4 linked regions of the Homo sapiens genome follow. The protein of the gene in region 2 interacts with the protein of the main gene of each other region in a biochemical or structural test. Each region holds a gene or a part of one and is shown on either strand. Other genes may lie near its edges.

Region 1 (2,925 bases), on a different chromosome or scaffold from region 2:
CTGTCTTGTGTGGACAAACTGAAAGGGATTCAGGAGCTTCTTCTGTAATTTTACTCTGCTGTTTTTCATGGACATAGTGAAAGGGATCCAGGAGTTTCTTCTGCAATTTGGCTGTAGTTGGACTTTGAAAAAAACTTGAAGAGTGTGTGTGCGCGCGCGCGCGTGTGTGTGTGTGTTTGAAAAGAGAATTAGAAAATGAAGGTAGACACTGGGTATGCTCCCCCAGGATGTGGCGATGGGGCGCCCGGCCGCCCTGGCTACACGTCGAACCAGTGGTCCCCCATGCAGACGCGGTTCCACTCGCAGCCACAGTTCCAGCACCACTCGAGCCTGCACTGGGGCTGCGGACACTTCATGTGCATGCAGCCTCCTGTTGGGGGCAGAAAACAAAGGTGTGGTGGGTTCGCAGCAAGTACCTGGAAAACACGCATTCCCAAACCAGCACGCTAGCCTAGACATCACTTTCTGAGCGAATAATCACAAGCAATACAAGGGCAGAGAGAAACTTAACTGAGGGGAAAAACTTCATAAAGCACAATAGGGCAGCTCTAAAGTGATGATATTCATTAAGAAATGAATGAAATTGAAGCATGTCACTTTTGTCGGGAACAAATTTTATTTGTAAATCTGACTTTATTCTCCTGAAAGGGGATTTAGAGACAAACACTTCATGTTTCATAGATAGGGGTCAATTCCTCATTTAAATATATTCAAATATTAATATATTTATATTTAAAATATATAAATATATTTTTATATATTTATATTTAAAATATATATATTTTTATATATTTATATTTAAAATATATATATTTTTATATATTTATATTTAAAATATATATATTTTTATATATTTATATTTAAAATATATATATTTTTATATATTTATATTTAAAATATATATATTTTTATATATTTATATTTAAAATATATATATTTTTATATATTTATATTTAAAATATATATATTTTTATATATTTATATTTAAAATATATATATTTTTATATATTTATATTTAAAATATATATATTTTTATATATTTATATTTAAAATATATATAAATATATTTTATATATTTATATTTAAAATATATATAAATATATTTTATATATTTATATTTAAAATATATATAAATATATTTTATATATTTATATTTAAAATATATATAAATATATTTTATATATTTATATTTAAAATATATATAAATATATTTTATATATTTATATTTAAAATATATATAAATATATTTTTATATATTTATATTTAAAATATATATAAATATATTTTTATATATTTATATTTAAAATATATATAAATATATTTATATTTAAATATATTGATAAAATTTGATGATATAACCTAATATAATGTATAATAATTTAAATATATTTTGATTTATTTTTGCTCTTTCTATAGTGCCACTTACTTGGCTTGGCCAAATTCATAAAACAGGAACTGGGATAGCATATTGTAATTATTATTATTTCTATTTTTTTTTTTGAGATGGAGTTTTGCTCTTGTCGTCCAGGCTGGAGTGCAGTGGCGAGATCTTGGCTCACTGCAACCCCCACCTCCCAGGTTCAAGTGATTCTCTGGCCTCAGCCTCCCGAGTAGCTGGGATTACAGGCGCCCACCAACATGCCCAGCTAATTTTTGAATTTTTCGTAGAGACAGGGTTTTGCCATGTTGGCCAGGCTGGTCTCAAACTCCTGACCTCAAGTCATCCTCCCGCCTCGGCCTCCCAAAGTGCTGGGATTACAGGCGTGAGCTACCGCACCCAGCCAGCATATTATTTTTAATAGGGAATATGTTCCTTAATGCTATCCAAAATTTTAATTAAGATGAGAGGGATAGAAAGGAAGTAATTAATAATGCTAGGTGTTCTATGTATATTATCTCATTTGCTTCCCAAAGCACTTTGAGATAAGAGCATCACTCTGCTATAGAATTTCCCCAAGGTGAAGCACTTTTAAATGGTGAAGACAATGATCTCACCAAGGTCTGTGTGATTCCAATGTCCTGTCATTCACAGAACAGGTTATTTTCAGCATAAGAGGAAAAGTCCCTTATCTTGGAACTTATTTTGGAATTATTCACCTCCCTCACTTGTTAAACATAGACTCCATGAGTTTCTGGAGTGCACACAGCCCTGCTTCAGTCGCTGTGGGGGAACTGAAGGGAGGAGGAAGTGATTTGTATGAGGATGTACAGAGAACTGTTTCTGTCCAAATTTCCTGGAAAACCCCGGCAAACGCAGTTTCTTTGCTTGAATCCCACCTAGCGTTGAAGGTGCTCCATTACTCACTCTTACCAATTATCTTGTTAATTGATTTTTCCTGCCAAATTTTCCAAGTAATTGGTTCGGTGCTGTCTCACTTTTATTATTAGAAACCTGGCATGAGAACTTTCACTAATTTAAAATATTTATGAATATATAGGAATAGGCATTTGTTTTAAGATAACTTGCCGACATGCAAAATCTCCTGTTTTCCTAATCCTTTCTGGCTTGTTTTAAAGATCATAAATTACAGATCTGTGGAAAATAAAGGAGAAAACTTACAACACTTTTATCTTCATACTTTCCACTTAGGTTTGTGCCATTTTCAGCACATATTGCATGGTTGTATATTTATGATGTAAATAATATGTTATATGGTGTGACATTATAAAACCACTTGTTTCTCTAAAATATCATAAATATTTTATCATATCATAAATATATCATTATTATATCATGTATCGTAAAATATATTCAATCAAAATTATTGAGCAATACATTAAAACTTAATGAACTATTAAAGCAATTCTAAATGAAAGGGTAAGAAACTTTCCTATTGTGATATTTAATATATATAAGCATATATAAACACAAATATGTATGAAGAGTGTGTGTGTGTGTGTGTGTGTGTGTGTGTATATATATAT
Region 2 (3,426 bases):
GGCTCGGATGGGTGTGGTGGAGTGCGCCAAACATGAACTGCTGCAACCATTTAATGTTCTCTATGAGAAGGAGGGTGAGTTCCAAAAAGAGCTTCACTTTGGATTCCCTGATTATAAGATATCCTTCCTGTAAGTTCAGAAGAGCTAAGTATGACAAAGGAACTTTTTATCAAAACACATCTTCATTTTTGCCATAGGTGAATTTGTTGCCCAGTTTAAATTTACAGTTCTGCTCATGCCCAATGGCCCCATGCGGATAACCAGTGGTCCCTTCGAGCCTGACCTCTACAAGTCTGAGATGGAGGTCCAGGATGCAGAGCTAAAGGTTAGTATGGAATAGAAGGTGGTGAGTATGTACATGGTATCCTGCTTGGGAGTGAGGGCTAAATGCCAGCAAAGTCCTGAAAAGAGCTGCAGTACTGAAAGTAACCCTTTATTTTTAATTTCCTCCACATTTCTCAAAATTTTTTTCCCTTCTTCCTGTTTTCCAGGCCCTCCTCCAGAGTTCTGCAAGTCGAAAAACCCAGAAAAAGAAAAAAAAGAAGGTGTGTTATTAACGATCATTCCTCTCTGGCAGGGTGAACCTGATCCCTCTTTCTCCCACTGTGTTAAGTTGTAGTGAAATACGGATTTTTATACAGATGCTCCTCAACTTATATGATAGAACTTTGTCCCAGTAAACCCATCATAAATTGAAAATACTGTAAGTCAAAATGGATTTTAAAATATATATATATATATTTTAAGAGACAGAGTCTCAAACTCCTGGCCTTGAACAGTCCTTCCACCTCAGCCTCCCAAACTGTTGGGATTACAGGCATGAGCTGCCATGCCCAGCCTTGCTTTGGCCGGGCACAGTGGCTCATGCCTGTAATCCCAGCACTTTGGGAGGCTAAGGCGGATGGATCACCTGAGGTCAGGAGTTTGAGATCAGCCTGACCAACACAGAGAGAAACCCCGTCTCTACTAAAAATACAAAATTAGCTGGGTGTGGTGGCACACGCTTATAATCCCAGCTACTCGGGAGGCTAAGGCAGGAGAATTGTTTGAATCTGGGAGGCAGAGGTTGCAGTGGGCCGAGATCGCACCATTGCGCTCCGGCCTGCGCAACAAGAGCGAAACTCTGTCTCCAAAAAAGAGATGATCTCACTGTGTCACCCAGGCTGACGTGTAGAGGCATGATCATAGCTCACTGTATCCTCAAACTCCTCCTGGGTTCAAGTGATTGTCCTGCCTTGACCTGCTGAGTAGCCACCACCATGCCTGGCTCAAAATGGATTTGATGTACCTTAACCTACCATGAACCTCATAGCTTAGCCTGGCCTACCTTGAATGTGCTCAAAACATTTATTGAACAAATTATCATGTATCGAAATATCCATATTGCTTTCACGCCATTGTGAAGTTGAAAAATCACAAGTTGACCATTGTAAGTCAGAGACCTGTATGTCTTTATTTCAGCTGTGACCCAGAGGATTGAGATAACTTTATGGCTGGGTGTGGTGGTTCACACATATAATCCCAACAGTTTGGGAGGCCTAGGCAGGAGCATCACTTGAGCCCAGGAGTTCAAGATCAGCCCGGGCAACATGGTGAAACCTCATCTCTACAAAAAATACAAAAAAGTTGTACATGGTGGCATATGCCTATAGTCCCAGCTACCTGGGAGGCTGAGGTGAGAGGATCACCTGAGCCCAGGGAAGTGGTACCACTGCACTCCAGCCTGGAAAACAGAGTGAGACTGTCTCAGAAAAAAAAATACTTTTATCTCTGGTCCCAGACATCCCCAAGTAGTTAGAAACTGACAGGTCTTCTCCCTCTCCTTTTCTTGCATATAGGCCTCCAAGACTGCAGAGAATGCCACCAGTGGGGAAACATTAGAAGAAAATGAAGCTGGGGACTGAGGTGGGTCCCATCTCCCCAGCTTGCTGCTCCTGCCTCATCCCCTTCCCACCAAACCCCAGACTCTGTGAAGTGCAGTTCTTCTCCACCTAGGACCGCCAGCAGAGCGGGGGGATCTCCCTGCCCCCACCCCAGTTCCCCAACCCACTCCCTTCCAACAACAACCAGCTCCAACTGACTCTGGTCTTGGGAGGTGAGGCTTCCCAACCACGGAAGACTACTTTAAATGAAAAAAAGAAATTGAATAATAAAATCAGGAGTCAAAATTCATCGTCTTCAAGCCCCTCTTTCTAGCCTTTTCTACTACTCTCTGCTTGGTCAAGGTTTGTGCCCCACTACAGAACAGGGCTAAATTAGCCACCACCACTGAAAACTCAGCCGAATTTTTTTATACCACTCTGATGTCAGCATTTTTTCCATCTGTTTGGGGCTTTTTCCTCTTTTTTCCATTCTCCCCAAATATTTTATCTGGCTTCAAAATTAAGAGGATTATTTTTCAGATTGTTTTTATTCAGTGTGGCCGATTCCTCATCTGATTCAGGCTGTCCAGTCAGGCCCCTCCCATTTTAGGAGCTGGAGCCTTCATTTATGAAGAGATTCTCATCTATGAAATGGATCCTCATTTGTAAATCTTTTTTCTTCCATTTTCACAAAGCTGTAAAGAAATAATCCATCTCAACCTTACCCTTTTTCTCTGGAGTCAGTGGGGTCTTTCCTCGCTCCATCTTACACAGACCTGAGCTGGAAGCTCAACTGGTTTTGTTCCCTGTTTGAAATATTGTGATCTCCCTCCCATGAAAGAAAAACCAAGAACCAGAGGCGTAGACTGACTGAAGACACAACTCCTGGCTTTCTGAAGCTATGGACTTGGATTGGATTGCTGGGGGTTTGTAGAGAAAGGTGACAAATTTCAGTACCTCTGGCATGCTGTCCCAGGAAACTAGGGCTCCCACTAACTTATGAGGTTTTTAAACACATTGAAAATGACATGACATTAAAATAAATTTGGATTTGCTCATAATGATGTGCTTTGTATGCTGCTCTTGTTTGATGGAGGTGGGGAGAATGTCAGTTGAAGTGGTATTGGAACTGTTCCTCCACAGTGCCATGCTCTACCTTCCCAAAACGAGGAATGTCTTGACTTGCAGAAGACACAAATCTTAGAATCTTTGATGATATAGTAATCTGCTGGAGTTGGGTGGTGTAATTTTCTAAGTAGAAACAGTCCTCACTGCTAAGATTTGTTTGGGGCTAGGACACAATGTCTACTGCAAAAACAGTACTGCAAGTGTTTATCTTGAATTCAAGAAGCCAGGAAGAATGGTACACTAGTTTTCAGGGCCAGACTAAGGTCAGATGGGTAATTAGTTTATCTTACTACATGTCAGGAATTGCTAAACTAGAGATACTACAAGTGAACAGAACTGAACACAGGTCAAATGTGTAATGATGTATATCTACCATTAAAATAGAGTAGTTTTAGTGCCCTAAAAATCCTCTGTGTTTTGCCTGTTCATCTCTCTC
Region 3 (3,136 bases), on a different chromosome or scaffold from region 2:
AGAGAGTGGGAGATATCCCTCTGTTGTCCATCGAAAGATAAAAATACAGGCTTTCAGCCGGGTGCAGTGGTGCATGCCTTTGGTCCCAGCTACTCAGGGGGCTGAGATGGGGAATCCTTTGAGCCCAGAAGTTTGAAACCAGCCTGGGCAACATAGTGAGAGACCTCCATCTTAAGGGAATAAAAAAAAAATCAGACTTTCAATATGAGTAACAAGTTATTTTTAGGCCTTTTATGACTTTATAAATAGGCAATAATGAACACCAAGGGAAGCAAAACACTGAAAAGAATTTTAAAATTTGTTGTAGAACATTAATACGAAATTTGAAACTGCAAAACAATGTAAAATTTAATGTCATGTTGTCATTTACTTTTGTGTATATTGTGCCATGTTTATTTTCAAAGTCCTATCTAGAAATTCTAAAATGTCTAATTTTCTTAATTAAAAATCCAGAATTCTGTAGTTTCTGAAATTCAAAATAAATACTTTAACATACCAAATTGGTTTTTCTAATAAACATTTATTTCAAGTGTTATTTGTTAAACATTTAATTGTTGAGATTTGAAAATGAACATTATTATTTATTAGACACATTTTATAGGCTCATTCAAAATTCTTAACTTTTGAGTTCCTGCTTTCTTCACAGCAGTGCACTCACTACTTTCTGGTATACAAGAAGAACAGCTTGTCCCCACTCTTACAGTGTAATGAAATTAGCAGTATAATGAAGAAAAGTGCTGTGTAGGAATGACTGAGCTCTAAGACAAACTGGTAAGAACAATTAGGTACTAAACAATGGGAGTACTAGGGAGAAGATTCATTTTGAGTGGGAGATGTTGGAACACTTTGGAAATAACACTGAATTTGGGTTCTGAAAGATGGATATAATTTTGATATGCAAAGTTATGAGGAAAGAGTTACTGTATAATCCAGCCATTCTCCTAGGAATATACATCCAAGAGAAATGAAAACAAGTCCACATAAGATTTGTACACAAAAGTTCATAGTAGCATTATTCATGGTAGCCAAAAAGTACAAACAACCCAAATGTCCATCAGCTGATGAATGGATACATAAAATGCGACATATCCATATGATAGAATATTATTTGGCAATAAAAAGGAATGAGATGCTGATTCATGCCACAGCTGGGATGCACCTTGAAAATATACTCAGTGAAAAAGACCACATGTATGATTCCATTTATATGAAATGTCTAGCATGGGCAAATCTATAGAGATGGAGAGTAGATTAGTGGTTACCTAGAGTTGTGAGAAAACAGAGTGAATACTAACGGGCATAGGGTTTCTTTTGGGGGTGAGAAAAATGATAGTTGCACAACTCTGAATATAGTAAACACTACTGAATTGTATACTGTATAGGTGAATTGTATGGCATGTGAATTATATCTCAATAAAGCAGTTATTAAAAAAAAAATGAAGAGAATTTCAGATAGAAACCACAGGAGAGAGCCACTGAGTGCAAAAGCCTGTTGAGGTAAAACTGCAGACCTGCATGGGTGGGGCTTACTCGGGAAACACTGAATATGGGATGCATCATGGAAGCCTCCAGAGGAGCATGGCCTTGCCCAGTGAACTGCAGCCCAGTGAATCTCATTTTAGACTTCTGGCCTCCAGAACAGAAAGAGAATAAATGTGTGTTGTTTTAAACCACCAAGTTTGTGGTAATTTGTTAGTTATAGCAGCCATAAGAAATTAATACAGGTCCAAATCAAATTAACCCCATAAGAGCCACACAGATTTGAGAAGCATTTTATTTGCCTCACAGTTTTGCCTATTATACAGTTTCTAGTTATTTAGAATTTAAGCCAATAATGTCACCATATAACTATCAACTGTGATTCCCTTCATCTATGACTATTTTTAAGAAATGTAAGATTTGGATAAGTCATAATCACAGATCAGAAACTGCAGACATTGAGGCCTGGATGGCCGTTTAGAGAGAAAGAGTTAACATTTCAGTGGAGACCTTTCCTATCTTGTATTTCCTACAGTCTCCTCCTATCTTCAGTGCAGTGTTCTGGCAGCACCTCAAGCTCACTGTCACCAAATGGGATTCAACGTCTTTCCTCCCAAACATGCTCTACCTCACCATGTCGATAGATGTACAGTCGCCCCACTACTGGCTTAAATTCTAAATTACTGAAAACCATGTAACAGGTAAAAGTGTGAGACAAAGTACCCCTCAAATACATGTGGCTCTTGGGGTTCATCTGACTGAGACTTGTATTTACTTGAATGGCATCAGAATCCTGCTACTAACCTTCTAACAAACTTGGAGGTAATCTTTGATGCTTACCTTTCCTTAATCCCCACATCCAATTAGTTGCCAACTCCTCTTGGTTCTGTCCTCTTATTGTTCAGGCCCTCTTAGTCTTTCCACTTCTGACCTTTCAAATATAGTTTCCTCCTGCTCTATTCTAAACATGCTAGTTTCAAAGTATTGGTTGGGCCATACCTTGCTTTAAAGAAATACTCATTTGTCAACTGTGGAGGTTGCTAGGGCACTAACTCACTCTAAAATTTGATAAATATTTATCGCATCTTTCCCATTCAGATTTAGAGAAAGTTCCTTAAAGAAGAATCATAGATGATAAATGCAAGAGGTTTGATAGAACCAGAAAATCACTATTTTACAACCCCTGAAATGAAATAATGGATCCAGGCAACAATTATCAATAGCTGCTAAAACCATCAGGTGAAAGATTGATGAGAAACTTTGTAGTAGTTGGTACCACCAGAACTCATTGATCAATATTAAAATCACTGAAAGTGGAACAATCAGACATCATGTTCCTCCTGAAATGATGTAAGAGAAAGTGTATAGCATCACCTATGGAGTATTCTTGGGGGAAAATAAATGAACCAGGATCAAATCCAGCTTCTAGGTCTAACTGGACACTCTGGGGATACTCTCAGTCAAATCCTGAGTGGAGGAAATTCCACAGGACAAATAAAAGCCGAAAAGAACTAAAACGCAGGGGTAAATTTTACAGAGTAAAGGAGACACATCAACCAAATGCAATGTTGGATCTAGATTTCAACAACCAAGAAAACTGTATTTTTGAGATAGAAACAATACAGACTATTATATGATAATTAAGGAAATCTTGTCA
Region 4 (3,500 bases), on a different chromosome or scaffold from region 2:
AATGGTGCCCAGGCTGGAGTGCAGTGGCGTGATCTCGGCTCACTACAACCTACACCTCCCAGCCGCCTGCCTTGGCCTCCCAAAGTGCCGAGATTGCAGCCTCTGCCCGGCCGCCACCCCGTCTGGGAAGTGAGGAGTGTCTCTGCCTGGCCGCCCATCGTCTGGAATGTGAGGAGCCCCTCTGCCTGGCTGCCCAGTCTGGAAAGTGAGGAGCGTCTCCGCCCGGCCGCCATCCCATCTAGGAAGTGAGGAGCGCCTCTTCCCAGCCGCCATCACATCTAGGAAGTGAGGAGCGTCTCTGCCCGGCCGCCCATCGTCTGAGATGTGGGGAGCGCCTCTGCCCCGCCGCCCCATCTGGGATGTGAGGAGCGCCTCTGCCCGGCCGAGACCCCGTCTGGGAGGTGAGGAGCGTCTCTGCCTGGCCGCCCCGTCTGAGAAGTGAGGAGACCCTCTGCCTGGCAACCACCCCGTCTGAGAAGTGAGGAGCCCCTCCGCCCGGCAGCTGCCCCGTCTGAGAAGTGAGGAGCCTCTCCGCCCGGCAGCCACCCCATCTGGGAAGTGAGGAGCATCTCCGCCCAGCAGCCACCCCGTCCGGGAGGGAGGTGGGGGGGGGTCAACCCCCCGCCCGGCCAGCCGCCCTATCTGGGAGGGAGGTGGGGGGTCAGCCCCCCCGACCGGCCAGCCGTGCCATCCGGGAGGGAGGTGGGGGGGTCAGCCCCCCACCTGGCCAGCCGTGCCGTCCGGGAGGGAGGTGGGGGGGTCAGCCCCCCGCCCGGCCAGCCGCCCCGTCCGGGAGGTGAGGGTTGCCTCTGCCCGGCCGCCCCTACTGGGAAGTGAGGAGCCCCTCAGCCCGGCCAGCCACCCCGTCCGGGAGATGGGGGGGTCAGCCCCCCCACCCGGCCAGCCGCCCCGTCCGGGAGGGAGGTGGGGGGGTAAGCCCCCCGCCTGGCCGGCCGCCCCGTCCGGGAGGGAGGTGGGGGGGTCAGCCCTCCGCCCGGCCAGCCGCCCCGTCTGGGAGGTGAGGGGCGCCTCTGCCCGGCCGCCCCTACTGGGAAGTGAGGAGCCCCTCTGCCCGGCCAGCCGCCCCGTCCGGGAGGGAGGTGGGGGGGTCAGCCCCCCGCCCGGCCGGCCGCCCTGTCCGGGAGGGAGGTGGGGGGGTCAGCCCCCCGCCTGGCCAGCCGCCCCGTCCGGGAGGGAGGTGGGGGGGGTCAGCCCCCCTGCCCGGCCAGCCGCCCCGTCCGGGAGGTGAGGGGCGCCTCTGCCCAGCCGCCCCTACTGGGAAGTGAGGAGCCCCTCTGCCCGGCCACCACCCCGTCTGGGAGGTGTGCCCAACAGCTCATTGAGAACGGGCCAGGATGACGATGGCAGCTTTGTGGAATAGAAAGGCAGGAAAGGTGGGGAAAAGATTGAGAAATCGGATGGTTGCCGTGTCTGTGTAGAAAGAAGTAGACATGGGAGACTTTTCATTTTGTTCTGCACTAAGAAAAATTCCTCTGCCTTGGGATCCTGTTGATCTGTGACCTTACCCCCAACCCTGTGCTCTCTGAAACATGTGCTGTGTCCACTCAGGGTTAAATGGATTAAGGGCGGTGCAAGATGTGCTTTGTTAAACAGATGCTTGAAGGCAGCATGCTCGTTAAGAGTCATCACCAATCCCTAATCTCAAGTAATCAGGTACACAAACACTGCGGAAGGCCGCAGGGTCCTCTGCCTAGGAAAACCAGAGACCTTTGTTCACTTGTTTATCTGCTGACCTTCCCTCCACTATTGTCCCATGACCCTGCCAAATCCCCCTCTGTGAGAAACACCCAAGAATTATCAATAAAAAAATAAATTAAAAAAAAAATAAAAATAAAAAATAAATAAATAAATAAATAAAATGAAAAAAAAAAAAAAGAACTACCTGAGATTGGGTAATTTATGAAGAAAAGAGGTTTAATTGACTTACAGTGCTGTAGGCTGTATAGGAAGCATGGCTAGGAGGCCACAGGAAATTTACAATCATGGCAGAAGGCAAAGGGGAAGCAAGGCACATCTTACATGGCAGCAGAAGAGAGAGAGCACAAAGGGGGAGGTGCTACACACTTTCAAACAACCAGATCTCATGAGAATTCACTATCAACAGAACAGCAAGAGGGAAATCTACCCCATGATCCAATTACCTCCCACCAGGCCCCTCTTCCAACACGTGGGGATTACAATTTGAGATGAGATGTGGGTGGGGACACAAAGCCAGACCATATCAGGTATTAGGTTGATTCCATGTCTTTGCTATTGTGAATAGTGCTGCAGTGAATATTTGTGTGCATGTATCTTTATGGTAGAATGATTTATATTCCTTTGGGAATGTAATGGGATTGCTGGGTCAAATGGTAGTTCTGTTTTTAGCTCTTTGAGGAATCGCCACTCTGCTTTCCACAATGGTTGAACTAATTTACACTCCCACCAAGAGTGTGTAAGCATTCCCTTTTTTCTGCAACCTTGCCAGCAGCTGTTGTTTTTTGAGTTTTTAATAATAGCTATTCTGACTGGTGTGAGATGGTATCTCATTGTGGTTTCGATTTGCATTTCTCTAATCAGTGATATTGAGCTGTTTTTCATATGCTTTTTGGCCACTTGTATGTCTTTTGAAAAGTGTCTGTTTATGTCCTTTGCCCACTTTTTAGTGGGGTTGTTTGTATGGAGGTTCATCATTAGTTACATTTAGTCAATAGATTATATGTGTTGTAGAATATGAAATTTATTCGTTTAAATTGTAAATAAACTATTTCATCAGGTTAAAAAAAAAAAAAAAAGGAAATCAGAAAATCCCTAAGAATAAAGCAAGAAAGTCACTGTAGTCTGATGCCTGGCGCCCACCCCAGACCATTTTTATGACAATCTCCATAAGTAGAGCACAAGTACTGGGGTTCCTTTAAACTTTTTTTCCTTTAAATTCCATTTTCTGCAGGGAAGTGGGTAGGGTCAGGAATGAGATCAATACACCCTGTCTAGGCCCAAATGTTCTACTTCAAGCTAACATGCAGCCAAGGTTGAGAACTTCTACTCTATGCAGACATACCTTTCAACAAAGATTCCTTACAGGAAACAACTATTGACTTCACAATCACAAAAAATTCAGGCCAGGCGTGGTGGCTCACACACTTTGAGAGGCCCAGGAGGGCGGATCACCTGCAGTCAGGGGTTTGAGACCAGCCTGGCCAACATATAGAGTGAAACCCCATCTCTACTCAAAAATACAAAAATACGCTGGGCCTGGTGGCACGCGCATGTAGTCCCAGCTACTTGGGAAGCTGAGGCAGGAGAATCGCTTGAACCCGGGAAGTGAAGGTTGCAGTAAGCCGAGATCACGCAACTCTAACCCAGACTGAGTGACAAAGTGAGGGTCCATCTCTTTCAAAAAAGTCTATTGGCTCCCCCCGCCCCACCACCTTACATTTAGTATGTTTGTGTGTGTGTGTGTACCTACAACACACAACAAGCTGATTTTTTTTTTTGGA

What was found. The genes of interacting proteins can lie anywhere in the genome.
Region 1: of the proteins of PA2G4 (region 2) and PRKN, one has a biochemical effect on the other in vitro, tested with the Homo sapiens proteins (one study listed by BioGRID).
Region 3: the proteins of PA2G4 (region 2) and EIF2AK2 form a complex in vitro, tested with the Homo sapiens proteins (one study listed by BioGRID).
Region 4: the proteins of PA2G4 (region 2) and NPM1 form a complex in vitro, tested with the Homo sapiens proteins (one study listed by BioGRID).

What each region holds. Positions count from the first base shown.
Region 1 is NC_000006.12:161,349,842-161,352,766, forward strand, and holds part of PRKN (E3 ubiquitin-protein ligase parkin), read right to left. Parts: intron 371-2,925; coding exon 258-370; 3' UTR 1-257. UniProt on the Homo sapiens protein: Functions within a multiprotein E3 ubiquitin ligase complex, catalyzing the covalent attachment of ubiquitin moieties onto substrate proteins. Substrates include SYT11 and VDAC1.
Region 2 is NC_000012.12:56,110,985-56,114,410, forward strand, and holds the end of PA2G4 (proliferation-associated protein 2G4), read left to right. Parts: coding exon 1-74; intron 75-197; coding exon 198-325; intron 326-491; coding exon 492-545; intron 546-1,838; coding exon 1,839-1,904; 3' UTR 1,905-2,926; downstream 2,927-3,426. UniProt on the Homo sapiens protein: May play a role in a ERBB3-regulated signal transduction pathway. Seems be involved in growth regulation. Acts a corepressor of the androgen receptor (AR) and is regulated by the ERBB3 ligand neuregulin-1/heregulin (HRG).
Region 3 is NC_000002.12:37,098,710-37,101,845, forward strand, and holds the end of EIF2AK2 (interferon-induced, double-stranded RNA-activated protein kinase), read right to left. Parts: 3' UTR 501-3,136; downstream 1-500.
Region 4 is NC_000005.10:171,401,349-171,404,848, reverse strand, and holds part of NPM1 (nucleophosmin), read right to left. Parts: intron 1-3,500. UniProt on the Homo sapiens protein: Involved in diverse cellular processes such as ribosome biogenesis, centrosome duplication, protein chaperoning, histone assembly, cell proliferation, and regulation of tumor suppressors p53/TP53 and ARF.